Linked DNA regions of Homo sapiens: all the other regions are reported to be linked to region 1. The links are microRNA targets in miRTarBase. Many come from high-throughput screens and were not tested one by one. Region 1 holds a microRNA gene; each other region holds the end of a gene's coding sequence.

What was found. Region 1 holds the annotated microRNA hsa-miR-1908-5p (CGGCGGGGACGGCGAUUGGUC, at 1,923-1,943, shown strand). A microRNA usually pairs through its seed, bases 2 to 8, with sites in the 3' UTR of a target mRNA and lowers its output. Matches are read on the target gene's strand: a 7mer-m8 pairs with bases 2 to 8, a 7mer-A1 pairs with bases 2 to 7 and ends in A, and an 8mer does both.
Region 2: miRTarBase lists LHFPL3 as a target of hsa-miR-1908-5p. The part of its 3' UTR that is shown has no 7-base or 8-base seed match.
Region 3: the mRNA of HEXA is a reported target of hsa-miR-1908-5p. Seed matches in the 3' UTR shown: 7mer-A1 at 3,548-3,554.
Region 4: the mRNA of PTGR2 is a reported target of hsa-miR-1908-5p. The part of its 3' UTR that is shown has no 7-base or 8-base seed match.
Region 5: the mRNA of GMDS is a reported target of hsa-miR-1908-5p. Seed matches in the 3' UTR shown: 7mer-m8 at 1,006-1,012.
Region 6: the mRNA of PDRG1 is a reported target of hsa-miR-1908-5p. Seed matches in the 3' UTR shown: 7mer-A1 at 1,042-1,048.

The regions. Positions count from the first base shown.
Region 1 is chr11:61,812,045-61,817,151 of GRCh38, reverse strand. It overlaps MIR1908 (microRNA 1908), which reads left to right and starts at 1,912; the gene lies at 1,912-1,991. FADS1 (fatty acid desaturase 1) reads left to right here and starts at 149. Exons shown (of 12, transcript NM_013402.7): 1 at 149-597; 2 at 3,799-3,909; 3 at 4,484-4,681. The coding sequence starts at 223. It also overlaps a transcript of FADS2 not described here. RefSeq lists silencers at 228-427, 1,948-2,067 and an enhancer at 948-1,845.
Region 2 is chr7:104,905,520-104,910,616 of GRCh38, reverse strand. LHFPL3 (LHFPL tetraspan subfamily member 3) reads right to left here. Exons shown (of 3, transcript NM_199000.3): 3 at 2,056-4,430. The coding sequence ends at 4,402. The region is part of intron 3 of LHFPL3-AS2 (LHFPL3 antisense RNA 2); the gene reads left to right. Among named protein-coding and RNA genes, the nearest start is that of LHFPL3-AS2, 19 kb to the left of the region's middle. RefSeq lists a silencer at 282-438.
Region 3 is chr15:72,339,539-72,344,645 of GRCh38, forward strand. It overlaps HEXA (hexosaminidase subunit alpha), which reads right to left. Exons shown (of 14, transcript NM_000520.6): 14 at 1,386-4,602. The coding sequence ends at 4,539. Among named protein-coding and RNA genes, the nearest start is that of CELF6, 22 kb to the left of the region's middle. RefSeq lists an enhancer at 2,820-3,319.
Region 4 is chr14:73,883,231-73,888,230 of GRCh38, forward strand. PTGR2 (prostaglandin reductase 2) reads left to right here. Exons shown (of 10, transcript NM_001146154.2): 10 at 871-2,496. The coding sequence ends at 947. ZNF410 (zinc finger protein 410) reads left to right here and starts at 3,629. Exons shown (of 12, transcript NM_021188.3): 1 at 3,629-3,685. RefSeq lists enhancers at 1,878-1,987, 3,619-3,688 and a silencer at 3,289-3,568.
Region 5 is chr6:1,619,914-1,625,020 of GRCh38, reverse strand. It overlaps GMDS (GDP-mannose 4,6-dehydratase), which reads left to right. Exons shown (of 11, transcript NM_001500.4): 10 at 481-549; 11 at 790-1,215. The coding sequence ends at 852. Among named protein-coding and RNA genes, the nearest start is that of FOXC1, 13 kb to the right of the region's middle. RefSeq lists an enhancer at 424-533.
Region 6 is chr20:31,941,312-31,946,311 of GRCh38, reverse strand. PDRG1 (p53 and DNA damage regulated 1) reads left to right here. Exons shown (of 5, transcript NM_030815.3): 5 at 423-1,975. The coding sequence ends at 505. TTLL9 (tubulin tyrosine ligase like 9) reads right to left here. Exons shown (of 15, transcript NM_001008409.5): 15 at 1,312-3,367. The coding sequence ends at 3,291. Among named protein-coding and RNA genes, the nearest start is that of PDRG1, 8.2 kb to the left of the region's middle.

The sequences.
Region 1 (5,107 bases):
GCAGCGCGGCCCCGCACCCAGGGCCTGCACTAGAACCGCTGTTCCTACCGCGGCGCCCCCTGGGAGCCAACGCCGCGATGCCCGCCTGACGTCAGGAAGTCGAATCCGGCGGCGACGCCTTTAGGGAGCCCGCGAGGGGGCGCGTGTTGGCAGCCCAGCTGTGAGTTGCCCAAGACCCACCGGGGGACGGGATCTCGCTCCCCGCGCCACGAGGCTCGGCCAATGGGAACGCGCGCTGCGAGGCCCGCCGGTCTGCCCTGCGGTGCTGAAAACCCGGCGCGCAGGCGGCTGGCTCTGGGCGCGCGCCAGCAAATCCACTCCTGGAGCCCGCGGACCCCGAGCACGCGCCTGACAGCCCCTGCTGGCCCGGCGCGCGGCGTCGCCAGGCCAGCTATGGCCCCCGACCCGGTGGCCGCCGAGACCGCGGCTCAGGGACCTACCCCGCGCTACTTCACCTGGGACGAGGTGGCCCAGCGCTCAGGGTGCGAGGAGCGGTGGCTAGTGATCGACCGTAAGGTGTACAACATCAGCGAGTTCACCCGCCGGCATCCAGGGGGCTCCCGGGTCATCAGCCACTACGCCGGGCAGGATGCCACGGTGAGCGCAGCCAGGCGGGGGCACAGGAGAGGGCGGGACCGGAGGCTGAGTGCAGGGGAGACAGAGTTACGCACTCCGAGCCAAACACCGACTAATTCGGAGGAAAGCCCGGAGGCGCCTGATCATACCTGTTGCCCGGTGATTGGGTGTCCTGCGGATGCGGGATGAAAAGGCGGGAGAGAGGCCTGGAGAAGTGGAGTCTGGGGAGTGGGGATGGAGGCCAACAACACGCACACACAAACAAAGGGTCCCGCCTCCCTGCCGTGCATTCCATCTGCAGCCCCGAGCCTCAGGTCTCTGGGCGGGGACAGAACCCCGAGCTGGGTAGGCTAGGAGGGAGGAGAGCAAGGATGCAGGCCGCCTGGGGAGGGAGGGGGTCAGTGGCCAGGGGAGGGAGTCACATCCTGTCTCGATGGCTAGGAGAGGCAGCGCAGCCGCGTCTGGACCTAGGTGCCGGTCTCCACTCGCCAGCAGGAGCGGAGAGGGAGCAGGAAAGGAGCCCATTCTCGAGGATGGGGCTGAAACGGGAAGCTTGGGGAGACCGCTGCCTTGGGGACCCCTGCGTCGTGTGAAGACTGGAGGACGCGGAAGGGACAGCGCTGGCCGGGGAGGGCAAGCGGCCGCTGGCGTACATAAGGGATTGGGAATGGCATACACTTAGCGAGGACCCCCAGAGCTGTTCTCGAATCGCCGGGGAGGCCACTGAGCCGCAGGCCAGCGAGGTCTTCAGCTATTCCGCGGAGCGGACCGCTGTTTACGCTCTGGGGCGGTAGGCCCTTCGCGGGGTCCTGTCCCTTCTTCCCTTGGTCTCACTGCGGGGTCGGCGCGCGCCCCAGCCCCAGGCCTGCTGCTTCCCTTTCTAGACCACAGCCCTCAGAGCTAAGGCCCCGGCGCCTCTCTGCTGGGTTGGAGTCCTGGGGACTCAGTCCTAGGGACTCGAAAGTCGGGGCGTTCCCTTCACCGCGTTTCCCCCTTGGCGGCCAGAATGGCGTCCCCTCCCCTTGCATCCCCCTCTGATCCCGTGCCCTGCAGCGTGATGCCCTCCACTGTCCCTATCCACTACCCTGGCGTCCCAGAGTGTGCCGCGGGTCACCAGGTTCCCATAACGTCGCAGCAGAGCTTAGACGCTGCGGGGCGAAGACCCGCCCCACCCTCTGACGCGACCAGCCTAGTGGGCGAGGCCAGAGCTTGCGCGGGTCAACCAGAGTGACCACTCGGGAGCCCTGACTGCGGCCAAGGGCGCAGGCGTGTCCCGGCGCATGCGCAGACGAAACAGGCACCAACGCTGGAGCTTCCCGCAGTGTGATTTGGGGCCGGGAATGCCGCGGCGGGGACGGCGATTGGTCCGTATGTGTGGTGCCACCGGCCGCCGGCTCCGCCCCGGCCCCCGCCCCACACGCCGCATCACTTACAGGGCCCGGGGCTGCCGGACCTGCCAACGTGAATCTTATCGCCATGGACCTTACCTTGCACAACCCAAAGTAGCTGCCTTGGGGCAGGGGGTGGCCAGAGTGCTTAGGGAAATGTGGAGCCCTACCCAGAACAACGGTGGAGGGAAAGGGAAGAAACGCAGAAGTGCCCCAGTTCGGACGTAGGGAAGTCTTCCTCTTCGTGGTTTTTGGAGAACCCTAGCTAAGAGAGGAAAGGGACTTATTGAAAGACCCGCAAGAAGGGACGGAAGTCTCATAGCCCTGAGAGGTGAAGCCAGCTGGAGTTGATGGGTCGAATGGGGACCTAGAGAACTTTTCTGTATCTAGAGGTTTGTAAAATGCACCAATCAGTGCTCTGTAAAAACGCACCAATTGGCGCTCTGTAGCTAGCTAGAGGTTTGTAAAATGAGCCAATCAGCAGGACGTGGGCAGGGACAACTAAGACAATAAAAGCTGGCCACCCCAGCCAGCTGCTGCAACCCGCTCCAGTTCCCTTACAGGCTGTGGAAGCATTGTTCTTTTGCTCGTCACACTAAACCTTGCTGCTGCTCATTCTTTGGGTCTGCAAAGAGTGTTATTCCTTTAAGAGCTATAACAGCGGGAAGGTCCACGGCTCCATTCTTGAAGTCAGTGAGACCATACCCGCCGGAAGGAACCAACGCCCGACACAGCCCCACCCATCTCTCCTGTTTCTCACCTATACTGAAATTCTTGGGCAAAAGCTGTCTGTGGACACACCCAGGGGAAAGGCCAGCCCAGGCAGGTGTTTCTTAGTGGTTCCCCTCAGCCAATGCTTCCCATTCCTTGATGCATCCTTCTAACTAGAGCAGATACTCGGTGATCTTAAACTGTGGACACCTGGGAGCACCCTCAAAAGGCAGCTGGGCCTAGGGAGATGGCCTGTGCTTCTGTGTCAGGAGTTGGTTCCTTCAGGTGGGCTCGTGGTCTCGCTGACGTCAAGAATGAAGCCATGAACCTTCGCGGTGAGTGTTACAGCTCTTACAGGTGGCGTGGACCCAAAGAGTGAGCAGCAGCAAGATTTATTGTGAAGAGCAAAGAACAAAGCTTCCACAGCGTGGAAGGGTACCCGAGCAGGTTGCCGCTGCTGGACGTTGGGGGGTGTGAGGGGGAGCAGCCTTTTTTTTTTTTTTTTTTTTTGAGACGGAGTCTCCCTGTCGCCCAGGCTGGAGTGCAGTGGCGCGATCTCGGCTCACTGCAGGCTCCGCCCTCCCCCGGGGTTCACGCCATTCTCCTGCCTCAGCCTCCCGAGTAGCTGGGACTACAGGCGCCCGCTACCTCGCCCGGCTAATTTTTTGTATTTTTAGTAGAGACGGGGTTTCACTGTGTTAGCCAGGATGGTCTCGATCTCCTGACCTCGTGATCCACCCGCCTTGGCCTCCCAAAGTGCTGGGATTACAGGCGTGAGCCACCGCGCCCGGCCGGGAGCAGCTTTTATTCCCTTATTTGTCCCTGCCCATGTCCTGCTGATTTGTCCATTTTATAGAGCACTGATTGGTCCATTTTACAGGGTGCTGATTGGTCCATTTTACCTCTAGCTAGCTAAAGAGCACGGATTGGTGCATTTTACAAACCTCTAGCTACAGAAAAGTTCTCCAAGTCTGCACTCGACCCAGGAAGTCCATCTGGCTTCACCTCTCACTTCAACTTGGGTACAGCCTTCTGGCGGGCAGGAGGATGGCCTTTGGTGCGAACACTGCCGGAGTCCAGGGGGCTGGCTCCCTCACCTTTCATCTTCTCCCGGCACTTGCAGGATCCCTTTGTGGCCTTCCACATCAACAAGGGCCTTGTGAAGAAGTATATGAACTCTCTCCTGATTGGAGAACTGTCTCCAGAGCAGCCCAGCTTTGAGCCCACCAAGAATGTAAGACCCTGTGTTTGCTATGTCGCAACTATTGGTTGTTGAGGGGGACAGAGAGGGGGTGGAAGGAGAGTCTAGATGGGATCACAGTCATAGTAATCACAGTCAGTAGTAGCTCTGGGGAGTCTTGAGGTCCCTGCTTCTCTTGCATAGTCATGAGGTCACAGGCCCAAGGGAGCATGGCTTTGCAACCTATGGCTCCCCCAAGGCTGCCACTACCATGGCTGCCATCATTGTTATCATCATTGTTATCATATGAGCACTTACTATGCACCAAGCATAAACTCATAACTCTTACACATTTACAGATGAGATAACAGGCTCAGGGAGGTTAAGCAACACAGCCAAGGATCACACAGTTAGTAAATGGCAGAGCAAGGACTTAGTCCCCTGAACTCTTAGGCACTATCCCATGGCACCTCCTCCTGTCATCCTCATTGTCGTGGTATCTTTGCCTAGGACTGTGGACTTCCCACAGCTACCTCAGTGGGAGGTCCTTGAGCCTGAGAGGGCCCTTGTCTCCAGTAGCATTGGGGTGCAGATGAGAAGAATAACAGCTCCTCTTCCTCTTCTGCAGAAAGAGCTGACAGATGAGTTCCGGGAGCTGCGGGCCACAGTGGAGCGGATGGGGCTCATGAAGGCCAACCATGTCTTCTTCCTGCTGTACCTGCTGCACATCTTGCTGCTGGATGGTGCAGCCTGGCTCACCCTTTGGGTCTTTGGGACGTCCTTTTTGCCCTTCCTCCTCTGTGCGGTGCTGCTCAGTGCAGTTCAGGTGAGAGCCTTTGGCTTGTCAAGTGCACAGCAATGCTCAGCATCCCTGGGGAAAGCTCCTTGGGTGTTTGAGGAAGGCCAAGAGTGCCTGCCCTCCAAGCAGGGCAGATCTGAAGGTATGCAGGAGTGAGTGCAGGAACATGCATTCTGCTGTCTTGACCTGTCTGCTCTTTAGCCACATGGACATCTTCATTTCTCTCACTGCCTTTTTAGCTGCTTCTCCAAGGGTTCTCTTCTTCCTATGCGGTTTGTTCTCTGCCACAGCCCACCTGTGCCAGGAGCCAAGTTTCTGGTTTCTTAGCAAAGCTTGGCTCCCTCCCCACCACTGACATTGCCCAATATGTTAATAATGATTGAGCGCTAATTCTTGACTGTCAGGACCCATTTGGCAAGCCTTCTGCTCATGTTTCAGTCCTTTCTGTATTCT
Region 2 (5,097 bases), not on the chromosome of region 1:
TTAACTCACCTGCTTCCAGTGGCCCAACGCTTAATCTTCCATTCCCTACTTTGTTATACAGATTTACCTTCAGGCAAGCCCAGTTTTTGCCTTTGCTTACATTTCACACTTAGTTTTCAGCTCACTCCACTTCTTTTTTGAAATGTTTTTGGAATTTCCCTTATTTTCTTATAATCTAAGCTGTGTGTTAAAAATAAACTTATTGTAATTTATCTAAGATTTAATAGTATGGCATAAGAAAGGCTTTTTAGAGGCTGGGCTCAATGGCTCACGCCTGTAATCCCAGCACTATGGGAGGCCAAGGTGGGTGGATAATGAGGTCAGGAGTTCAAGACTAGCCTGGCCAACATGGTGAAACCCCGTCTCTACTAAAAATACAAAAATTAGCTGGGCATGGTGGTGCGGAGGTTGCAGTTAGCCAAGATCGCCCCACTGCACTCCAACCTGGGTGACAGAGCCAGACTCCGTCTTAAAAAAAAAAAAAAAAAAAAAAAAAAAAGAAAGGCTTTTTAGAGTATCTAGTTTATACTGCTAGATGCCGAAACCAAAAGTAATCTTTTAGAAATGTGAAATAGTTTATATCACTCTTCTGCTTAAGATCCTCCAGTGGCTTTTTCTCACACTTAAAATGTACAAACTATCCTGGCCTACAAAGCCCAGAGCTGGGTCCTAGCTTAGCCCACGTGGCTCCCCACTCTGCCACCTTGCCGTTCCTGGTCTGGCATGCCTTCTGCTTTTTTCACACGTGGCTTTTAAACGTTTGTTCAGGTCTCACTCTAAATGCCACCTTTTCATGGAGGCCTTACCTGACTCCTCTCTCCATTTCTCTGTCAATCACCCTGTTTTAATTCTCTTTAGGGCATCTATTATTAGCTGACATTTTCCAGTCTATTGTCTGTCTTCCCCTACTAGAACATAAGACCTATGAAAGGAAAGCAGGGTTTTGTGTGATTCACCACTATATTCTCAGAGTTTAGAACAGTTCTTGGCACATAGTAGGAACTCAATACATATTTCTTGAATCATTAGAGCTGAGCGTTGACTACTTATTCCCTTTAGACGGGACCTAGGCTCTTCAGTGCTCCACAGTTCCCACTACTTCCTTTTAAAAATTTATTTTATTTTATTTAAAAAATTATTGTTGTTTTTTTTTTTTATTTTCAGAGAAGGGATCTCACTATATTGCCTAGGCTGGTCACATACTCCTGGACTCAAGTGATCCATCTGCCTCAGCCTCCCAAAGTACTGGGATTAGAGGCCACTGTGCCAGGCCAGTTCCTACTACGCCCTATTATGTCCCCAGCTGAGCTTGCTTTGTGAATTTATTGGCCCTTGTACGCATTTGAATTTTCAATCCCTGCTTATAAATGTCACTCTAATTGTCTTCAGGATCTTCAGAGCAGAGACTTTTTTTTATGTTTCTTTTCTTCCTTCAGTGTCTTGCATATAGTAGGAGGGGAAGGAATGAACATTCACTGAATATCCCCTACCTGTCAAACACAACAACAGTATAGTTTAATTTATATCCTTACAACAATGCTATGGAGCTGAGTAATATTATTTATATCTATTTTACCAGTGAGGACACTGAGGCTTAGAGTTGTTCAGAGTCATATAGTAAACCAAGGATCAGGGATTGGAACCCACTCAGACAACATATACCCAGTATGAAGTGTTGTTGCTTCATATACCCAGTATGAAGGGTTGCTCATGTGCGAGGAATGGTTGGTTGTTTTCAATTTGCAAAGGGGAGATTGGGCAATTGGATATTGCAGGTCAAGTTTTACTTGAGTAGTCCAGCTATTTATTTAGTTATCAATTTCATTCCACTGAGTGTATGGAGAATTAGCTGGAGATATTCCTACATTTGGCCAGAAGAGGCTTTGGAGATGTTAACCATGCCTTCTACATGAGAGTCCTGCTGTTGACAGATATGGAATCCAACAGCAGGGAGATTTTCCGAGATAGTTACTTCAGTGGAACCATCAGCTGTCACCAGATCACTGGACAAAGACAGAAACTGAATGCACCAAATATGTACCACACCACCAAAAATTCTTTTAAGTAACAAAATCTTATTTTTATTTTTATTTTTTTACAGAAATTCAGGTATTCCAACAAATTTCTTTACATTTCTTGGACCTTAAAAAAATTACACACAACTTTTGGACGCAATACAACAGAACAGAATGAGAAAGGGAGTCACCTTTTTTGTTTTTTTTTTAAAAAGATAAAAACCTACTTCTTATATTTAATTAACAATTAGTGATTTACATGTGTATTACCTATATACAAATGGTACATCGTCAATGACCCATCTTCAGAGCACTGTGGTATGCTAAATTACACTTAGGTTTTATGGCAAAAACTTTTTTAAAACATTCACATGTGGATAGGAAGTACTTTCTTAGTTTTGTTCATACCACTGTTAGTGATGTAGGACTCCCGATGGAATTTGTAGTTTGCATGGATTAGAGAAAGCCAATACCCTTTGTTTTTATTGTAGATAAAGTAGACAGGTACCTCCCTTCAAATAAAATACGAATTCTTGAAAAGTTGTGTGTAATTAAATTTAGTAAGTAGGGTGTTATGGATGTAGTAGGGAGCTAATACTTAAAGCAACAAATAATCCTCAGAATGACTAATACTTTAGTTGTAGATACTAAGTATTCCCTTAATTTGGTTCTTTAGAAAAGCCACATCTCTGTGAATTGGGTTTTACTCCTTTGAGCATACCCATAATATGCTTTTAGCCATTTGAAACATAATGCCATTTATGGTGAAAAGATGGCCCGTACCAGAAACATTTGGCTAAAATAGGAATGTGGTCCTAACAGAGAGAGGGTAAGAGAAGTGAACCCTGATCTGTATCACTTCTTGTGTTATCCTCCATCTGATGTTCTAGTGATATACACTGATTTGTTCTGATTTTGAATACATGAATAAAAGCATTCTACATGTCCATGTTTTCTCCTTAGGTATAGAACATGGTTTGGCTTCCATTAAGTACCCTTGCATGTATTTTAGCTTGTGTTCATTCTCAGGCAATGGGCTATTTCAATATTAAATATTTGTTTGTTGTTGGATATTAGCAGGATATGTGGTGAGGGTGATGATGGGGGAAGCCTGGGAGCAAATGATTGTTGAAGTCCACTGGTTAGTTGTTAACTACTTCCAGATGTCAGCCAACTAAAATGAATCTGAGTATTTTTGAAACCAACATTAGTAAACAAAAAGGTAACTTATTCCTACCGAGTTTTTTTCAACCTGTATAAGTATACAGTCATTTATTTCTAAGGCTATTAAATTATTATTTATTTTGTTAGTACCACTTACTATTATTTAGAAATATGTTTAATGGAATGATTTTTAAAAAAATAAAAATGAGTGCCCATCAGTAAGGGAAATAGAAGACATGGATTTCTGATAACATGTATGGCAAAGAAATAGGAAAAAAGTAGGAGACATTTTAGATACTTATTTATAAAGTATATTAAATTCCTATGCATATACTAGGGAGAATTAGAAAAAAAGTGTTTATTTGATAGTAGCCTATAATATTACACGTGAGCTTCCAAGGTGAAAATGAACTTTTTCTATATTTTTCAGAGTTCCTTGATGCTGTTTCCTGAAAGATAGGGAAATCTATGTTGCTTGGGAACCTATGATGTAAAGATGTACTTCCTGTAATATACAGCTTGATGGAGTAATAGTATATGGCATAAACACTTTCTCAGTAATAACTTGTATGGACAGATTAAACAGAACACAGACTTGGTAAAAAGTTTGAAGCGTTACGTCTCTTAATAACTGAGTGGTTGTAACTAATTACACAGTGAAGTAAATGAATGGTAGAGATGAAGAACCAAAGGTCACGGCTCCTATGAAAACATTCAGAGGCATTTTCTAAGATGCTTCCTCAATAAATGACGCTTGATCAGCCTCTTGGCTATTGAGATAGGAATAATTTAGAACTAACTGCCTTTTTAAAAATTCTGTTGAAAGGTTAAAGCTTTTTGTTTTCAGTTTGATTTAAAAAGGACAGTTTACAAACCTCAGTACGTATATATTTTACATGTTAACTCTAGAGCATTTATATTCCTCTTCCTTATTTCCTGAATATGATTTTTCATGAACGTTTTCTGATCTCATCCAATGAGTTTCCAATGAGCTGGTGTTTAATCCATGATCACATCTCTTTCCAGAAAATCACTCCCATCTCTGCTGATCTAGATTTAGAAAGTGCGTTGACAAGTGAATGTTCCATTCTTGTTCATATTCATCTATATACTCTGATCTCTCTCAGGCGTATTCCTTCTTGATGTTGATGTACAAAAGCTGTTATTCGATTCGTTTAGCTGTTATTCGATTTGTTTAGCTGTTATTCGATTTGTTTTGTGCTCATTCTAGAGAATATTGGCTTAGCAGAACTGCAGAAATTGGAGGGAAGAGAGAGAAAAAGGGTGGGGGGAGAGAAAAAATACATCATTTTCTGTCTGCAAGATTTTTGTGCATAATATTTGTCACGGAAAAACTATACCAATGAATGGTTCAAATGCATTTTGCATTTGTTACCAAACAATACTGGAAAGTTTGAGATTTCTGTTCCATTCAACCCACAGTACAGTCTTCCCAGCAAGAAGAACATGAGTATTCCCTCCATCTGGGTCAAGATTAGAGGCTGCTTTGAAGGAGCAAGGAAAAATGTGGACTGTTCCCAAGTATCACTGACTTTTCTGCTTAGCATGGAAAAATGTGTCACTTGAGTGTTTTCCTTTTCTTTCCAAGTTTTATTTATTTGAACTCAACATTATAGCAGCTACAAAAGAAATTATTATAAAGATTAATGACCCACAATTTAATCACTTGGACACAACTGTTTTCTTCCTATATTTCTTTCCATTCCTTATCTAAATGGGAAATTATTTTATACAATTGTAATTACAGTATAGATGATACTTTAAACATTTAAACATTACATTAAAGACAATTTTCTAAATTTCCATTGTCCATATCAGCATAAGTTTCTTTTATTTATTTATTTACTTAATTTATAATATAGAGACAGGGTTTCACCATGTTGCCCAGGCTGATCTC
Region 3 (5,107 bases), not on the chromosome of region 1:
AGGTGGGCAGATCACCTGAGGTCAGGAGTTTGAGACCAGCCTGGCCAACATGGTAAAACCCCGTCTCTACTAAAAATACAAAAATTAGCAGGGTGTGGTGGCACATGCCTGTAGTCCCAGCTACTTGGGAGGCTGAGGCAGGAGAATTGCTTGAACTCGGGAGGTGGAGGTTGCAGTGAGCCCAGATTGCACCACTGTATTCCAGCCTGGGTGACAAGAGCAAAACTCCATCTCAAAAAGAAAAGAAAAAAAAAAAAAAAACAACAAAAGTGCCTGACACAGCAAGCACATAAAAATGACGAAGCACTTTTGTTCTCCTAGCTGGATCTCCACATCTATCTTCATTCAGATTTCTGACTCATGTGAGTCTAGATAAACACCAGCAGTTGAGTTCCTATGTTCAAATATCCTCTTTCATAATAGATCATCCAGACACTCAGACACACGCTCTCACTCACACACTCTGCAGCACACCAGCGAGCATGGCACCCCTTCCCATCTGTGTCTGCCTGCCAGCTGCTCTTCCTCCTTTCCCACACACACTCCCTTTTTTGAGTGGCTTCCAAAACATCTCTTTCTAATTTGCTATAAAGAGTGAGCCATAAAGAATTTATTAAGTGATGAAAAAAATCACAGCTAAGTATCAGATTCTCCAGAGGAAATAAGATTAAAAAGAAATTCTGGAAAACAGTTGTTTTTGGAGAAGGGAATAGCATTGGGAAGGGGGATATTAATAATGTTTCATCTTTTTTGTTTAAAAAAAACAAATCTGAAGCAAATATGACTACTGAGATGCAACAAAGCTGGGTGGTTACACTGTTTACTATTTTCTAGACTTTTCTGTTGTTTGAAACATTTGAAATCACTAAAAAATAGGAGTATTTACTGGGATAGTTTAGACTAAACATGGGTGTGGTTAGAGTACAGTAATTACTGTGAAAAAAGCAAGGTTCCTGGACATTTAAATTTTTTTCTTTTTTTTGAAACATGGTCTCACCCTGTTGCTGAGGCTGGAGTTCAGTGGTGTGATCATGACTCATTGCAGCCTCAATCTTCCAGGCTGAAGTGATCCTTCTTTCTCAGCCTCCTGAGTAGCTGGGACTACAACCACACACCACCATTCTTAGCTAATCTTTTTAATTTTTAGTAGAAATCAGGTCTCACCATGTTGCCCAGGGTGGTCTTTAACTCCTGAGCTCAGGCAATCCTCCCACATCGGCCTCCCAAAGTGCTGGAATTAGAGGCATGAGCCACTGCACCTGACCCTGACATTTCGATTTTTAAAAATTTTGTTGAAAAACGTCACACACACACACACACACACACACACACACACCTGCTTCAAAGAGGATTTTTAAAAACAATGGTGGCTCGGCTAGAAAAGATACTAATTTTCAACCTTTATTTCAAAGTTTATTTATAAAGGAAATACAAATTTTGATAAACAAAGCACCCAATTCCTACTTATTTTTTTTCTTCGTGGAAAAAAAAGTATGTGACACATACTTGTCATGCCCTGTATTGATTAAGCTTACAAAAGATATTGACAGAAACTATACAAATCTAGAATTTAGAGTGCTAGGAATGTTGCCATAAGGTATGTGTACCTACATTAATACTAAATAAATTCCACCTACATCCTTTCTTTCACCCTTTCCCAGTATCATTTCAGCTTTCCTCACAGTCTCACTGTCCCAGAAGTCTAGGGGCAATGACTCTCCATCACTAGTGCTGTGGTGGCACCTGTGCTCCCACATCCTGATATCCTACCCCTACGGCAATCCTTTGAGAAGCACCTGAAAACACCAGTGACCTAGCTTTATTAGATTCCTCGAAGGGAAGGTACCTGGCATGCAGCCTCAGCTCCTACCAAGGAGAGGAGAGGTTGAAGACTCTCCCAGTCTCCATTCACTCCTTTGCTTTGATACCCGTTAGGCCTGCTTTGCCTCCTTAATAGACTCCTGGAATGGGAAGGGGTGGGGGTGGGGAGCGACTGGAGAACTCTTTTCCTAGGATGACTGGAGCCAGGAAGTCAGTCTGGAAACTTCCCCACCCCCTGGTGGTGCACAGCACACAAGATGGCCTGTGTTCCGCTCAGGGGTGGGACTTTCAATTTACAGCCTAGGTGAAGGGAGATGAGTTGGGGCAACAGCGATTCTGTTCATTGGAACAGACTGGGTGGTAACTGCAGGCCACTGCAGTTGACCTGTTGGCATTCGAGGTCTGACGACCTTCAGGTAAATGCTCTTATGATCAGTGGACCAAAGGAGCAACGGTGGAGGGTGAGGAACAGCACACTTTACCAATGAAAGTCGTGACCAGGCCACGTTAGTTTAGTGGTAAAAATAATAACATTAAAGAAAATGTTTACAACAGGAATAGAAAATGACAGAACCCTACTGCTTTAACTCAAGTGTATCACGATCTCTGCCTTCATCCACTTGAGACTTAAAACTCAGTGTCTGCTATTTTTACTTAACATTATCCCAAGCAATAGTAACATGAAAGTTATGACCAGGAGGGAAGCAGGGTCGCACCTGTGCAGGGTCCTTGTCTGCGGACCACCCCTCCTACAAGCTTCTGGGTAATAGAGGTAAGGGGGCTCCTGTGGTGGGTGCCAGTGCTGGGACCTTAACTTGTGTATCTGGGCTATAGCCCTGGACTTGGCTAGGCTGGGCTGTGTGAAAATTCCAAGAATTCTGTTGGTAGAAAATGCCCACCCTGTCCTTACAGGAACAGCACAAGGCTAGGCTTGTCTACCTCCCACCAGGACCTCGAAGGAACATGACCCAGGGGCTGAAGGATGGTGTTGAAGGACCGAGTTTTACTCAGATCCTTCTCAGCCCTGCCTTCCTGAAGTTTCTGTATCCACTACACTGGAAGCTTTCTGAAAAAAATGCCTGGAACCTGTCCATTGTTACCCCAGCCCAGGGCCCAGCCAAAGAACTTAACAAATAACCGCCAAGGAAATCCTCACCTAAAATGGCTGCGATGCATTACTGCCCCCGCCTCTGGCTTACAGTATCACTTCTGCATCTGAAACCAGGAGGGGGCAGTCTGGGTCCACGACGAGACATTTCCTTCTAGAGAAAATCACACCTGCAAAGACCCTCTCCAGAGCCACCGCCCACCTCCGCGCAGCCATCCATTCCCTGCGAAGATGCTTTGGGCTGAAAATGGTTGGGAGGAGGGGGATGGAAGTCGCCTACGTTATTTTGGAATTGACCAGGGCCTCTGAGTCCTTCAAATTCAACAATTTACCACAGGCCCGCGTGCGGTGGCTCACGCCTCTAATCCCAGCACTTTGGGAGGCCAAGACAAGTGAACATCTGAGGTCATGAGTTCAAGACCAGCCTGGCCAATATAGTGAAACCCCATCTCTACTAAAAATAGATGAATTCGGCCGGGCGCGGTGGCTCACGCCTGTAATCCCAGCACTTTGGGAGGCCAAGGCGGGCGGATCACGAGGTCAGGAGATCGAGACCATCCTGGCTAACACGGAGAAACCCCATCTCTACTAAAAATACAAAAAATTAGCCGGGCGTGGTGGCGGGCGCCTGTAGTCCCAGCTACTGGGGAGGCTGAGGCAGGAGAATGGCGTGAACCCAGGAGGTGGAGCTTGCAGTGAGTCGAGATCGTGCCACTGCACTCCAGCCTGTGTGACAGTGAGACTCCGTCTCAGAAAAAAAAAATATATATATATGAATTAGATGGACATGGTGGCACGTGCCTATTAATTCCAGTTACTCAGGAGGCTGATGCACGAGAATCGCTTGAACCCAGGAGGCAGAGGCTGCAGTGAGCCAAGATTGTGCCACTGCACTGTCAGCCTGGGCGACAGAGTTTTTGAGACAGTCTCAAAAACAAAAACAACAAAAAAACCCACTACCACAGTGCCTAGAGAACAATATGTGTTTAATAATATTTAAATAATGGTTGTATAAAATTGAAGCAGCAAGAAACCCAAAGGAGAATAGCTCTAGGGGAGGGAGGTGGATGAGTATGCATGGGGGAGAGGCTCTTCTGTGACCAGGTTGGGTCTGGAGCCCTCCCCACTGTCCAGAACACCTCCAAGCCCCTACATCTTTTTCCATATACCAACGCCTTGGAGATATAATGCAGAAGTGAAGTGAGCAGGCTGAGGATTAGGGCAGGTGTCTGGAATATGGTCAGGAGTGGGAGGGGAGTGACATAGCTCACAGGCAAGGCAGAACAGCACAAAGGCTATAGGTTTCATTCCCAGCCCTCAACTTAAAAGACCTCAGGGGCAGACACTGACTCCAGCCTGGCTGTGCCCTTACCCTAACGCCATTCACACTTTTTTTTTTAAACACAGGTAATCCATGTTTATTATAGAAAAATGCCACATTACTCTTTATTGAATGCGAGCGCCAGCACCGGCCCCTTTCTCTCCAAGCACAGGGGCACGCAGGCAAGGGGCACGAAGGCAAGGGGCTCCGTCCCCTGGCCAGGATGCAGTGGAAGCCTGGCTCCACTACCATTCACCTACAGCCAGCACCCTCCTCGGTGCCTGGGGCTCAGGTCTGTTCAAACTCCTGCTCACAGAAGCCTACATTGAGGGGTTGGGCCTGGACACCTCGCCTGCAAGAGGACATGAAGAAATGGCAAGATAAGCCCCTCAGAAGGGGCCCCAGCAACACTTTTCACACCAGTCAACAGTCTCTCCTTCCCCATTTCGGTGACTCTCAAACTGTCACTGTACACCAAATGCACCTGGGAATCTCAATTCCAGAGATTCTCACCTGGGGTGGGGCAAAGTATTGGCAAGAATCTGCAAGCTGAACAGGTGCCTCAGGTGATTCTGATACAGGTCTTGGAGATCCAGAAACGTTGGCGACATCTATTTATATCCTGCCCATCTCTGTACCCTAACCCCAAATAACTCAATCCCTTTAGAATATAGATGGATGTCTGAAAGGCAGCCAATGCTCTTGGTCTACTTAGCCCTCTGTTCCTGACTCTAAAATGCTGTAAATATGGTGGCACTGGGGGACTTAGGTGCTGTCCTGTCCATGAACATGGATGCGAAATCCTGTCCTTGGGTCTCAGTCTATAACCTGACCAATCTCCTTAGGGGACCTCTAGG
Region 4 (5,000 bases), not on the chromosome of region 1:
TCTTGCTCTGTTGCCCAGGCTGGAGTGCAGTGGCATGATCATAGCTAACTGTAACTTATGAACCCATGGGCTCAAGCAATCCTCTCACCAGAGTAGCTGGTACTACAATTACCTGCCACTATGCCCAACCTTTTTTTTTTTTTTAATTTTCCATAGAAACAGGGTCTCACTATATTGTCCAGGCAACTCCTGGCCTCAAATGATCCTTCTGCCTCAGCCTCCCAAAGTGCTGGAATTTACAGGTGTGAGTGCCTAGCCCTTTTTTTAATTTTTGAGACAGGGCCATGCTCTGTCACCCGGGCTGGAGTGCAGTGGTGCGATCATGGCTCACTGCAGCCTCTACCTCCCAGGTTCAGGTGATGCTCCCACCTTAGCCCCCCGAGTAGCTGGGACTACAGGCACACACCACCACTCCCAGCTGATTTTTGTATTTTTAGTAGAGATGGGGTTTCACCATGTTGGTCAGGCTGGTCTTAAACTCCTGACTTCAAGTGATCCACCCACCTTGGCCTCCCAAAGTGCTGGGATTACAGTCGTGAGGCCCCATGCCCGGCCTTCACTCACATTTTATTCCCATTTTTTTTTGCCTCTAGTCTTCAGATACTGTAAACAATGAACATTGATGTGCATACCAGTTAGATACCAATTAAATCTTTCCAGTATGGGCAAAACATTTTTTTAAGATGTTAATTGGGTTAGTTTGTGTGTAACTTTTTACTTGAGATTTCTTTTCATGACCATTTTCTTCTATGCTTAATATTCAAAATCATTGAAAAAGTTATTTAACATAATTTTATATGTTGTACCTTTTGGAAACAAGTATGATAGTGACATTTATCTTTTCAGATAACCTACTTTCTCTTTTTCCAGCTGCATTCCAGTCCATGATGACAGGAGGTAACATTGGAAAGCAGATAGTTTGCATTTCAGAAGAAATCTCTTTGTAATTGCTGTAAATGTCATCAAGGCAATCATAGATTTCTTTTCCATTTTGCATATTTTCAAAGATATGTTAAAAAATCCTTAGACTATACATAGCTCTTGATTTAAATGTGATCATAGGTGTTATTTTTAGTTGCATAGGGTATTTGATACAATCATTAATGGATCATACACAATAGGTTTTTAAAAATTAATAACTTTTAGTAATTACTTTTATTAATTTAAAATAGAACGCTTGAGAGGCACTTTGTAAAGATTTGTTAAACTGGAAACGTTTTACATGATCTGATACAACCATTAATGAATCATACACAATAGGTTTTTTAAAATTAATATTAATAACTTTTATTAATTTAAAATAGAATGCTTAAAATAAAATAGAATGCTTGAGAGGCACTGAGTAAAGATTTGTTGAACTGGAAATGTTTTACATGATTCTTAAACTGAAACTTGGTGTAAAAATAGAATTGAGATGGCCTTTTTTTCACATTGTAGACTGAAAAGAGACTTAATGGTATGATGTGTACATAGGGACTGGGGGCAGGATTGGGGGTTTCGGAGCTTGTGTAACAGTTTTTGGGATAGGAGACCAGCGGTTTTGGGTTGGGATTAGTATGGGAAGATAAATAACTTAGGTTGGTTAAGTTGACAAGATTTACTCCAGAGGATCATCTCTTTGTATTTGCCAAATAATTTACTGTATAGCCTAAAAACTCCATATATATTGAGAAAAGCATATGTTTATTTTAGGTTAGCAGGCACATACTGTCAAGTTGTAAAGATTGAGAGGGCAAACAGATGTAAACATCACTTGTAGGTGATTAAAAAGATTGACAGCCGGGCCTGATGTCTCAAGCCTGTAATCCTAGCACTTTGGGAGGCAGAGGCGGGCAGATCACTTGAGGTCAGGAGTTCAAGACCAGCCTGGCCAACACGGTGAAACCCCATCTCTCTAAAAATACAAAAATTAGCTGGGCGTGGTGGCACACGCCTGTAATCCCAGCTACTCAGGAGGCTGAGGCTGGAGAATCATTTGAACCTGGGAGGGGGAGGTTGCCGTGAGCTGAGCTTGCACCATTGCACTCCAGCCTGGGCGACAAGAGTGAAATTCCATCTCAAAAAACAAAAACAGATTGACAACAAAGACAGTTTCAGAAAATGACAGGACTGGGCAAATTAACAAATGTTTGTAAACATGAATGTTCAGGAACTACTGATGTACCTCAAAAGTTTGTTTTATTAATTGTACTCAACCCTCGCAGAACAGTAAAACTGAAGATTATTGTTTCTGAATGTTTTGGCTTATGATTGTCTACACACTGCCAATATACTTTTGTATGCAACATTTGTAATAAGTAGATTCAAACTGTGTTGGTAATCAGCCTCCCCAGTTTTCGTGAGTGGCCCTTTTTTGTTACTTTTCCTGGACCATTTCATCGCCTGAGGGGGTTTCACTTTTCTCTGTATGTTGCTAACTCCCAAATCTCCATCTGTATTTCTGACCTCTTTCTTGAGCACTGGACCTTTACCTCCAAGTAAATATCCTCAACTCTGGATTGCATCTTATACTCTGCTTTTTTCTTTTCTTTTCTTTTTTGAGATGGAGTCTTGCTCAGTCGCCCGGCGTGCAGCGGCACGATCTCGGCTCACTGCAACCTCCGCCTCCCGGGTTCAAGCGATTCTCCTGCCTCAGCCTCCCGAGTAGCTAGGATTACAGGCGCGTGCCACCACGCCCGGCTAATTTTTGTGTTTTTAGTAGAGACGGGTTTTCACGGCGTTACCCAGGATGGTCTCGATCTCCTGACCTCGTGATCCGCCCACCTTAGCCTCCCAAAGTGCTGGGATTAAAGGCGTGAGCCACGGAGTCCGGCCTACTCTGCTTTTCTAAAGTGGAATTATCTTCCTCTGAAATGTTTCTCCTTTATTTTAAATCACCATTAGTAATTTGTGTACCCAAACCTGTCATCAAGGCTTATCTTTAACCTTGAAAATGCCTTTTTAAAGAGAACTCCTTTAATTCCCACGGTTGAGTCTCTCATTCTTCCGCACGCAAATATTTTAAAATAAGTAATTTCAAGAAGTCAGTCAAACTCACAAAGCTTTAACAAGGTGGCATCCAGCTTGGAAGTCAAGTGTTCAAGCCCGCAGTCGGGACATCCAAGAGCTCTTTACATCCTAATTACAACACGGAACCCAGACTCACTGCATACCCCGTCCCGTATATAATGCAAAACTTGATTCTGCAAGTTCCTTTCTCGGGCGGTGAAACTTCGAAGGTCCTCTCCATGGAGACCTTTGATAAATGTTTAAGCAGTGATCTTTTCTTTCGCGTTTGCCTCCATTGCAACGCCTCCGCTGATGGGAAAAACTACTCCCTCCGCTACTGCGGGGTGGCAGTGACGTCAACGAATTAGCTGACCTGTTTTTTCGGGCTTCGCGGACATAGGAGTCCCGAAGGCCGAGAGTGAGTGAGTGAGTGGGAGCGGGGCGGCTGCGGCTCCTCCTGTCCGGGGCGGAGCCCTGCGTCGCGGGCCTGGGGAGGCCCCGCCAGCACCCTTGACGTCTGGGTCCCGAGCAGTGCGGCAGCCACACGACACTGAGGCGAGCGAGTGGGTGTGTGCGTGGGGGGTCAGCCAAACTTCCTGTCCCGCGCTCGAGCTGCTTCCGGCGGGAGCCGGAAGACGCTGTGTGTGGACGGAATTCGGGACCGACTGACGGCCGGCCGGCTTCCCGGAACTGGAAGGTGAGCTCCGAGGTGGGCCTGGCCACCCCTCCTCGGTTAGGTAGTACCCGAGAGGGCGGGGGCCAGTACCGGCTACTTGGGGCCTGGGGCCGAGTTCGCCCCGAGAGAGGAAACCGCCCTCCTTGGGCATCCCTCCTGGATCTGGCGGGCCCGGGAGCGGCCAGTCTGAAGCCCTGCGGCTTTGGCCCTTCCCCTCGCGGGTTTTTAGGGGCGATGTTCTTGCTCCTTTGCTTGGTTTTGGGGGTAGGGATATAGGAACAGACTGTCCTGAGAAAGCCAGAGTCAGCGAGTCCCCGGGGCGGGGGCTCTTGGACTGCACCCGCAGCCGGGGCCTGCCTACGGACCTTGGGGCCTTATTTCTGAGGCCTTTGTGGTGTGGGGTAGAGGATGCCAGGAGGCCTTGCCCTGAATGTTTCAGTCCAGAGCTACCCTCTCCTTTCATACCACTTACTTTCTGGGTTTGGAAAAGGGACAGCTGCCTACTCGGCTGGGCTGGGTCGCCCGTTTCTCCTTTGCCTGTCAGTTCGGGGGGCAGGAGTGTGTGGATTGTTTACGGCCTTCATACATTTCGTGTCGAATTTATTTTCTGAAGTTTCTCAAGATAATCCAATTTATTAAAGTTTATCCCACTTGATCATGAGGCTCAGAAATGCATTTAGGCACCATTTGGAAGTTAAATATTATTAACTTGGGACTTAAGAATTAGTACTTAGGTTGGAACGAAGGTCAACGCAGCATATTTGCAATAAATAAAAAACATTTGGAAATAAAGTCGGGCATTTTGTTAGGGAGTGAGAAATTGCACTTGGTTTTTTCTTAGTGTGGTGCAGAGTAAAAGACAACTAAAGTAGCAGTCAGAAGTTTTAAGTTCTAGTTTTTTACGTTTTGCATCTAAGTAGATGTCTAATTTTTGGCAAGTTGCTGAATCTCTAGCTCTGGGGAGTTTTTCTGTAAACGAAGGGGTTTACCTTTAGGGCTATGACAATTTTTCCGAGGCACTGAACTTTGAGTAGAAGTGACATAAGCATTTCTTTGTTTTGGAAAGATAACTTGAATGGCTGCATAAAGGATGTATTGGAAAGAGGAATTTTAAACGCGGGGTGACCAGTTAGAGGCCTGTTTTAATAGTATAGTAGAAAGTTACTGAGAGACCTAAACAGGGCATTACAGTAGGGAACAGAGAACATTCTGGGAACAGAGAATCACGGGAATTATTTAAAAATGGAGAATGAGAGAGATTTAAAGACCTAGAATTTGCAGCTGAGTGGGAGGAAGATTGGGCGATCATTGAAATAGGTAATACAAGAAGAACAGG
Region 5 (5,107 bases), not on the chromosome of region 1:
TAGGACGCGCGCTTGGCGCGGCCAGCCCTGCGGCAGGAGCTGAGCGGCGCAGGGACACGGGCAGCTGGGAGGGGCGCCTGGTGATTTACTCACTTCCCTCCTAGCCAGAGAAGTGCAGCAATTCCAAACAGTTCTCATAGGAGCGTCCCTGACAACTTCATGTTATAAAAAAAAAAAAAAAAAAAAAAAAAAAGCATTAAGAGCCCAAGGGACGCCTTGGGGAGAAGAGGTGTGGAGGTAGCTGGGGGTGGATCGCGGTCACGGTCCTCACGGGTCCGCACAGCACATTCTTAACCGCGACCTAGTGATTTACGGCGCCGAGAGCCGCAACTGAACGCGCACAGCAGGGACCGAAAGCAGGGAAACCCGGAGCCTTGTGCGCCCAGAGGGAGCGGAACGGTGGGAGTTCCCGGGGCTCGGGACCTGCTGCCCCCACCCCCACGACCCACGCCTGCTTCGTCTCCCCCTCTTCTTCCCTAGGACTTTCTGCAGGGCGACTGCACCAAAGCGAAACAGAAGCTGAACTGGAAGCCCCGGGTCGCTTTCGATGTGAGTATCTCTTAGGGCGCACGCCGCCCGCTGCGGGGCCCCGGGCTGCAGGGCGGCAGCTCTCAGGGTCGGGCGCCTGAGGCGCCTGCGATGCCCAAAGCCCGGAAGGCGGGGTGCGGGAGAAGTGAGGGGAGCTGGAACGAGGGACGCGGAGGCCTCTCTGGGGCCGACACCCGGGGTGGGGTGTCACCAGGAGAGAGTGGCAGAAGCTCCTCCCTCACGCCCACCCCTGTGTTGCAGGAGCTGGTGAGGGAGATGGTGCACGCCGACGTGGAGCTCATGAGGACAAACCCCAATGCCTGAGCAGCGCCTCGGAGCCCGGCCCGCCCTCCGGCTACAATCCCCGCAGAGTCTCCGGTGCAGACGCGCTGCGGGGATGGGGAGCGGCGTGCCAATCTGCGGGTCCCCTGCGGCCCCTGCTGCCGCTGCGCTGTCCCGGCCGCAAGAGCGGGGCCGCCCCGCCGAGGTTTGTAGCAGCCGGGATGTGACCCTCCAGGGTTTGGGTCGCTTTGCGTTTGTCGAAGCCTCCTCTGAATGGCTTTGTGAAATCAAGATGTTTTAATCACATTCACTTTACTTGAAATTATGTTGTTACACAACAAATTGTGGGGCCTTCAAATTGTTTTTCTCTTTTCATATTAAAAATGGTCTTTCTGTGAACTAGCATTCACAGGGTCAGTGTGGATGTTTTCTCCCAAGTTATGAACACGGCTATAGGGGTCCCCAAACAACCCCACAATCCAGGCCTTGGAATGAGATCGCTGTGGTCAGGCCTTGCCCTGTTTTGAGAAAGCCCTTGGTGGGAGGACTCCTGCAAGGCTAAGGGGGGCGGGGGTGCTCCGGCGAGCCTCCTCCTTAGTCTTTGCCTGGGACATTTCTTTCCCCCTCCTGGTGACAAGTCACTCTGGAAACCTAGTTCCTGCAGAAGGGAGGAATTCACACCCTGGCTGGTCTCTGCTGACTATAATTAGAACCCAAGGGCTCTCACCCATCTGAAAAAGAAGTCTTGAGAAATAGAGGGGGGTCAGAAGAAGAAACTTGAAGGTAAGCAAATACTGTTGGAACATTCCATGGCAAAGCCACCAAGTTACCTAGAGGTCTCTGAGCCTGTGCCTTTCCTTGTGGTCTAGAATCTTTTACACAGTGCTTATTTGCAGCCTCTTCTTATGACTACTAGGTCACTTTTTAAATCTCAGTTTAATGTATTCATTCAGCCATTTATGTTAAGTGCCTAATACATGCCAGACATTGTGCTATGCACTTGAACGACATCAGCGTTAATTTGAAGCTATAATAAAAAGGTTTAAGGCTCAGCCTCAGATCTCTGGATCTGGTTTGTTTGCATGCATCATTTAGGTGGCCTGGGTAAGACCACAGGTGTGTGCTCCTGAGCTGTGTATGGTGTACAGCTACAGGTAGGCTGACGCACACATGTGCAGGACACCCACAGGCAGCAAGCAAGGATTCATGTACAGGTGTATACCTCCACATGAAATACAGTATTTTGCCCTAGAACAAATTAGGTCAGGACACTTCTCCCCCTCACTCCCCTTCCAAGCAAAATAAAATAAAACTTTATAGCAAATGGAATTCCAGCCTTTGCACATGTGTGTGTGAGTGCGGGTAAACTATTTCTGAACGTCTTCACAGGCAGGTTTATGATCTGGGGGAGGACCGAGTCTCCAACGACTGGCGCAGGAGAGAGGGCTCTTTGTGTGGCTGCCCAGTTGCTGTGAAAGCTTGCTGGCCGGGCGGCCTCGCCCTCGATGGAGCAGAACTGGGGGGCCTGAGCTAGCCCACCCGCTCCTCAGAAGCTGTCCCAGGACTCGCCTTCTCTGCACTCCCAGGCGGGATGCTGCTAATTGGAAACACATGGTTGCTGGGAGGCCGGGCCTCAGCCTGGGCGGGATAGTGGGCACACACACAGATACATACTCACACATTGGCTCGAACACAAACATCCATGCACATCCATTCACAAGTGCACATACACTCCACAAACATGCCATCTCACAGTCACACATTCTCACAAACACTTGCAAACCCAACTCCCAAACCCACTGTCACACACATCCTCCAACAAATCTCACAAAGAGTCACATTCCTCTTAGCCTTGACCCTGATGGGCAGGCACCCCCTCTCCTCTGACCACCGGAACCTCCCTTCCCACACCCAGGAGAGACTATTCCAGGGGCCCTCAGGCTTGCCATGGCCCTGTTTAATTCAGTGTTGCTTGTTTGGACACCTAGAATCAGGAGAGATTCTAGGCAGGGGTTTATGCAGCTCCAGTTGAGCCATGATGTTGAATTCTACTTCTCCAAACGGATGGCAGCATCCATGTTTGAAGGAAACTAAAAAGTATTTTTGGTTGCAACCTTCTCACTGCTCCTGCACCCTGAGTAATGGAAGGAGCGGGAGTTCATTTGGCTTCCTGGTGTATGTGGTTTAAAAGGAGAAAAGGAGAATCGATTTACTTCGGCATTTTTTATCTATTTCTGTGCTATGAGAGAAATTCATTTGGACATCCTTCAAGACAATTCTTATTACAGGGTTTCTTCTATCTTAAATCTCAATTAAATTTCAGTAAACTTATTTTTTCCTGCTCTGCCAGACTTTGGCTGTTGGTTTCAAATGTTACAAAACATCTTCCACCTTGATATTTTTAAGGAAAAACTGAGAAAGTTAAACCTTCAGTTAAACTCACATACCATGGCAAAGCAATCTTGCCCGAGTTTGTGCAGGAGGTGCGTGGAACCCGGGTAGGCCAGGCCCCGTCGCGGGCTCTCTCTGCTGCCCTTTGTCTTTAAGGAATTGCGAGCGAGCTAGGCCCAGCATAATAAACCTGTCACACCTCTGCAGCTGTTTAGGGGCTCAGGCTCAGCCGCTGCTGCTGCTGCGCGCAAGATGGCTCCTTCGGAAGGCCGGGTCCGCTTGGCCGCGGGCGCTGGCGAGGAGCGGGTCGGCGCTGGCAAACCCCACAGGCATGGCTTTGGGTTCTTTTTCGCCCCTTTTAGTAGCCTTCGCCTACACCAACCACCGCGAACCTCGTGGAACCTCTGGCAGCCAGTTGGAGGGCTCCTGGCAGATGCAAGGAGTGTTATTATCGCACTAATGTGTTATTAGAGCTTGGAGCAGGCAGCACTTTAAACATTCACTTGAAAATAACCTTAAATGTATTGTTTACAAGTAACTTTTTAACACCCCTCCCCCCAAGTCTCAAAGCACCCTACGCACTTTATTTGGATTTGGGAGTGCCTACTGGGTGAATTCTGTTTTAAGGTGCAGCCCACACACGTCCAGGTGTTTTCTACAACCTGCATCCTTGATTGGTACGCGGGTGGCATGGAGGGGTGGTGGCAGCGCCCATCTAGGTTTTACAAAATGAGTGTCCCTGTGTGTGCGTGGACGTGCCTCACAAAGAGACCTTCACGTCCGTACATGCCACCCGCACCCTCCAAAAATTGTGGATTGCCATCACGGGGGTCGCTAATACTTTTAACAAGCAGCAGGGGCAATGGGGGACAAAACGGCGCTAGGAACTGGTCCACCGTCCACAGTGTGTCCCCTGAGAACACCCGGGGTCTGGGCCTGATCTCCAGGAGTTGGAGGAGGCGCCCCCGCCCCGTGCCAAGCGGGCCCAAGGCCCGAGGCTCCCCCGCTCACAACCCCGGTGCCCGGAACACGTCTTCGAGGGGCCGTGCTGTCGGGGTTATTACTCGCGACTGGACCTCGCGCCGTGTTGCTCTCCTCGGGCCCCGAGCCCGCCCAGCGGTCTGCACGGCCCAGGCCTGAGCTGCGGGCTTCTCCTGTGGGGCGCGCTGGGAGTGAGCTCTATCCCCAAAGCCCATTTCAACGTCCCAGGTATGACTACGACGGCAGAGGCCGGCCGCCCACCCTCGCCCCCTTCCCCGGCCAGAGCGCCTTTGCCGGGAGCCGACGACCGCGGCCTGACCCCGGGCCCCACCGCCTACTCCCGGCTCCCGCCCTTCCTCCACGGTCAGGGGTCACACACAGCGGACGCCCCGTTCTCAGCCGCCCCTCTGATCTCTGAATTTGGGAGCCAGCGTGTCCGCTGGGGCATGCACTGCCACGGGCACTGGGACCCCTTTGCTGCTGCGGGGAGGAGCCCCGACGGCAGGTGGGAAGACCTAGCCTGCCCGCGTCCCCGCTCCCCAGCTCCTGCGACCCGGGCCGAGGCTCTCAGCCCCTGGGCTTCCCCGCTCCGGGTTTGAGGGAGGGGCCGGGCCTTCGGGCCTGCAGACCCGCCACCGCGCGTGCGCATGCGTCGGCCGCGAGCCCCCGGGTGCAGGCCTGGGCGGCTCCGGCCCGCGCACTTGTCCAGGCGCTGCGGCTCAGCGCGCCCCAACCTCCAGCTCGGGCGGAGAGCGGGGGCGGGACTGAAGCACCGTGTTCCTCAAAGTATCCTCTCGCCGTCGGCAGCCCTGGCCTCGCAAATGCTCCAGCGCGCTCAGGCGCACGCAGAGACTGGCGCGGCAGCCTCCGGGCCAACGGCACGCGAGCAAAGCTGGTTGGCGACCTGGGACACGCAGTAGAAGTT
Region 6 (5,000 bases), not on the chromosome of region 1:
CTACAGTCCTAGTCCTGTCATAGTTTCTTTTCCAGGTCCCAGGAACCGCTTGGGGTGATCTCACGTTATACATCGGGGCATGGCATGGGGATCAGATAGCTCTGACTGAGGAAACTCAGAAGGCTTCAGTGAGTGAGTGAGGTCAGAGCTGAAATTCTTGATAAATGCAAGCACTCTAGATTGGTCACAGGTCTTGGAAAAACCTGAGGTTCTTTGGGCAGCAGAGTTACGCGTTTGCAGGCTCTTGGTGACACAGGAGCAGTGGTGATGCCTCATCTGGTGCATTGCAGAATTGGAGGCCCATCCCTGCCAGACCTCCAGGCTGAGTTTGGCAGCATTAGTGCAGCGTCAGCCCCTTTCCTGGGCCTGGCTCCAGAGCCAGCAGGAGGCCCGACGTGCTGATGGATCATCTTCTCTCCTAGGCAAACCGGAGCTGAAGGGTTTTAACTTGAACCCCCTCAACCAGGATGAGCTTAAAGCTCTCAAGGTCATCTTGAAAGGATGAGACTCAAGAACCAAGATGGGGGACCAGCAACCCCCCAGGGTCATGGAGGACCCAGGACCCTCCAACCTTGACACCTGTAAGGACAGGATCTGCCCTGTAAGGGGCCAGCCGTCAGGAATCTGGCCATGAAAACCTCTTTGTAGTGCTTGGCTACTCTGTGATGGCAGGAGGGAACCTTCAGCCTGTCTGGCTGCTGGACCTGGACACCAGGGCTCGGTGGACACAAGATCTATTGACGGGCCTTGGTAGCCACCAGTGGGTGTGTGGGGCAGTGGCTGTGGGGGTGTAAGAATGACTGCAACAGGCACTTCCCAACAATGGCCTGCTGTTCACATGGACCCTGAGCAAGGAAGGAGGGAGGGAGGGGCAGAGTGGAGTGTCATTCCAGCATTCCTCTCAGAAGGGAGAGAGGTTTTCAGGCTGGTGCCATGCGATTGGAATAAAGCAGGAGGCTCATGGGTGGTTGCTGAATGAAGAACAGAATCTTGGTGCTTTGTGGCTCACCACAGCCATCTGTGGGGCAGGCACACACACCTCCCGCCAGCTCCAATTTTGCACTTTTTCCCTGCTTGATTCCAAGAGTAGGTGCTGCCTAGCAGCCCTTCGTGGCCACTCTTTACTCAGGAGGGCCTTGCAGAGTCCTGCACCAGGCCTGGGTGAGTGGATGCGCCTCTTACCATATGACACGTGTCAAGATGCCCTTCCGCCCCCTCTGAAAGTGGGGCCCGGCCAGCACTGCTCGTTACTGTCTGCCTTCAGTGGTCTGAGGTCCCAGTATGAACTGCCGTGAAGTCAAAACTCTTATGTGTTCATTAAGGGCTCAATAAATGTTAGCTGAATGAATGAATAGCAGCAACTAGTCTTTATTTGCCTCATCTAGTCCTTCAGTAAGGGCACGCCACTCCATTTAGAATACAACCTATGAACATGGTTCTTGCCTTGAAATAAACCTGTGATTTGACAGGCGGGTGATAACAAATGGCAGCATGGCAGGGGCACACCTCTCCTGGTCCCCCCGCTCCTTGGCTCTGGCTCATAGTTACATAGAAACACAGGCTGTCATGGCCAGTTCTTACGTGTTTTCAAGAGAAGCTAGACATATGGGTTGTGAAGTTGAATCTCCTTTTAAATATTTTTGACTAATGCAGAAACTTTTAAAACATGAGTGTGGGTCACAGGTGTTAGCTCCAGATAGTGCAATACCATACAACTATAATCAAGAATAAGGAACAAGCTCCAAGATACATCAAGTGAGGAAAGCAAGGGGAAGGCTGGTGTCTTATAAGCTAATAATTTTTGTGCAAGCACAGTGTGATTCCCTCAGAACAGCACCTGCAGGGTTGGGGCGCACAGGTGGGAGGGAAGGAGATGTCACCCTATACCCTTTTGTAAACTTTGGATTTTAAACCGTATGAATATATTGCTTATTTTAAAATGTAAATAAAGTAGGGAGTTGCAGAATTCACCTTGCTAGATGTTGTCCAGTGTGACTGCCTGATTCACAATTTCATCACTGGAAAATTGCCCCTTCCTCCCTGGCAGGGTGGGTGCTGGGCCAAAAAAAGCTAATCGCATTCCTTCTGGAAATAGGGAACCTGGAGTCCATGCCTGGACCTGTCTGGGTTGGTGTGCCTCAGGTACAGGGATGAGTGGGAGAAGTCCTCATGCTCTGAAGGCAGAAGGTCTAGAGTAGCCTGGCTTCTGGCTTTCCTAAAGTCGGCTGGTTCACTTCTTGGATTTGCCAGTATTTTCCTTCCAAAAGTCTTCCCTTCGGGCTTGACCTAGGCAGGCAGATTCAACCATTTGCAGCCAGAGAAACTACTCTGAAGCAGGCGGAGTGGTAGAGGGAGTAAGTCCCCCCTGGAACAGTTACCCCAACAGCCCCGAGTCTTGTTGCAACCCCTCTTAAACCAAGAGGAAGCTTAGCAATGTAAGATGTGAAAAGGCAGATTTTTACTCACACTCAACTCCCGAAGCTGTCCTGCCCATGAGCCCAGGGTTTTCCGGTTTCTGGCTCAGCTCCCAATCTCAAACACAAGGCCTAGAGAAGCACTTAAGTCACCCATCTGACTTAGATAAATGCACCTTTGCAGAGACCCTCACTAAGCTCTGCCTCCCTGGTCTGTCTTGTCCATCTGAGAAATGGGGATGCCCTGTCCCACTGGTTTTCAGATGATGGTCAGGGAGCCCCATGGGCTCCCCTGACATGCAAGGAGAAGAGGATGTGTTTAGGGCTCAGTACTTCCCCAGGCCCCCAATAAACACACAATCTAATAACTGCTTGCTGTGTAAGCACAGCTTAAAGACGAGTTCCTTAGCCTCCAAACTCTTGCTCCTGAAGGACCTTTTCAGCACTGACTTGGGAGGTATCCAAGTGTCAAAGCCAGGAGGACTTGGCTGCAGCCAACAGTATCCCCGGAACCAGGCCTGGTGCCCAGTGACTCCAAGTAGGGCCTGTGCTCATTTATTAGATATGATCTCCTGGGGGTAGCAGAACTTGCTGTATTTGTTCTCTTTGGGCCTAACTGCCAAGTCAGTTTGTCAAGGTTAAACCTCCCCCAGTCCCAGTGATTGGCTGTCTCCTGGTGCAAAGATGCCTGGGGATGGGCTGGAGGTATCCAAGGGGCCCAATTCAGGTAGTAAGCTGCAGCTGCTAAGCCAGCAAAGCTGGTGCCAGGCTGGAGGTGGGGAGGCGAATGCTGTGAGGTGCTGTGCTGGGATCTGGGAGTGGGGGGGAGGCCTGGGTGGCACCTGCTAAGGCTGATTTCCTCCTGGCAGCTGGGGATCAACTGGAAGCTTTCTTCTGAACTTGAAGGGAGCAGAAGAGCTGCCTCAGTTGTTTCTTCCGATCGTTGACGCAGCCTGGAAAGGAAGTGGGGTGTTGGCTGGGATGACCTATGCTTGGGAGGAGTGGAGGGGCCTGTGCCCCAACTCCCTGCTGGGAAGAGGGGACAGCGGGAGTCAGACAACCACACACAGCCTGTGGTTTATATCCTGGCTCCATTCCTAAACTGCCATGGCCCTCAAGCAGGTCAGTTACCCTTTTCAGCATCGGTCTTCTCATCTGTAAACCAGGATACTACTGCCCACCTTATGGAGTGAACATGAGGACTGGGGGCTTACCTCAAGCCAGGAACTGCTCCAGATGCTGAATGTGGATGGATTTGTTTGGCCCTCGCAGGAATGATGTGTAGAAGGGAAAACAGGCTCAGAGAGGTTAAATCATTTGAACCCAGACTACCTGGTGCCAGAGCCACACTCTTAACCACTACCCCACGCTGCTGCTTCTCCTGGCTTTGCTCAGTGAAAATGCATTTAAAGCTAGCACAGTGCCTGGCACCTCATAGCTGCCCAGTACTGTTAGCTTTCTTCCCTTACCCAACCCATGTGCCAGGCACAACTGGCTAAGAGATGAGTTTTCCGTACATGTGGCCCCCAATCCCAGGCAGTTCGTGCTGAGGCTGCCGTGAGCTGCTGAGACGTCTCTCCCAGGACGTTCATGGTGCTACATGTTGGCTGTTTGCTCTCAGAGCTGATCCTTGAGGTAACTATGGTCATTTAACCTCATGCCAGGCACATTGCTGGCACTCAAAAATGCTGCTTGAATGACTGAATCTCTGTGGCCACTAGTTCTGACCTGTGGGTGTCTGCCATCTTCCACATCCCCCCAAACCCTGTCCCTGCTTCCCAGACACTCACTCAGCCATTCACTGAGCTGAGAGCCTACGATGCACATCCTCAGGGTTTTCCAGAGTGAGTTCCATGCAGCCCTAACTTAAACTCTATTTGGCTCATTCCTAACTCTCGAGTCTTCTTGTCCAGTGCAAACTTCTTGGAGTTCTACACTCATCTCTGAGTTATCTGCTGACCCTTTCACCTGGATGTCCCTGAACGCTTCCCTAACTCAGTTCATCAGTACTCTTCCTACCCTAACCAGCTACCCTTGTGTTTACCACCATAAACCCAAACACTTGAAACAGGAATAATTCTAGAGACTTCTAAAGCACTGGCTCTCCCAGCCTGGTCAATATAGTGAGATTTTGTCTCTACAGGAAAAAAATCACACACACAAAAATAAAATTAGCCAGGTGTGGTGTGTGCCTGTAGGCCTAGCTACTCAGGAGGCTGAGGTAGGAGGACTGCTTGAGCCTGGGAGTTTGAGGTTAGTTACAGTGAGCTATGATTGCACCACTGCACTCCAGCCTGGGCAACAGAGCGAGACTCCGTCTCAAAAAAAAATAATAAAAAAAAAACAGTAGCTCTCAACTTGGGCTGCATATTGGAATCACCTGGGAGCTTTAAAAGCTACTGATGCCCACACCAACCATATCTTGATCTGGCAGGCGTCAGTAGTCTTTAAAGCTCCCAGGTGATTCCAATGGGCAGCCAAGATAGAGAACCGCCGCTTTCCATCTTTGCTACTCAAATGGGGGTCCAGGAAGTAGCGCATTGATATCTTTGGTGCACTGTTGGCAAAGAAGGCTGCAACAATGTT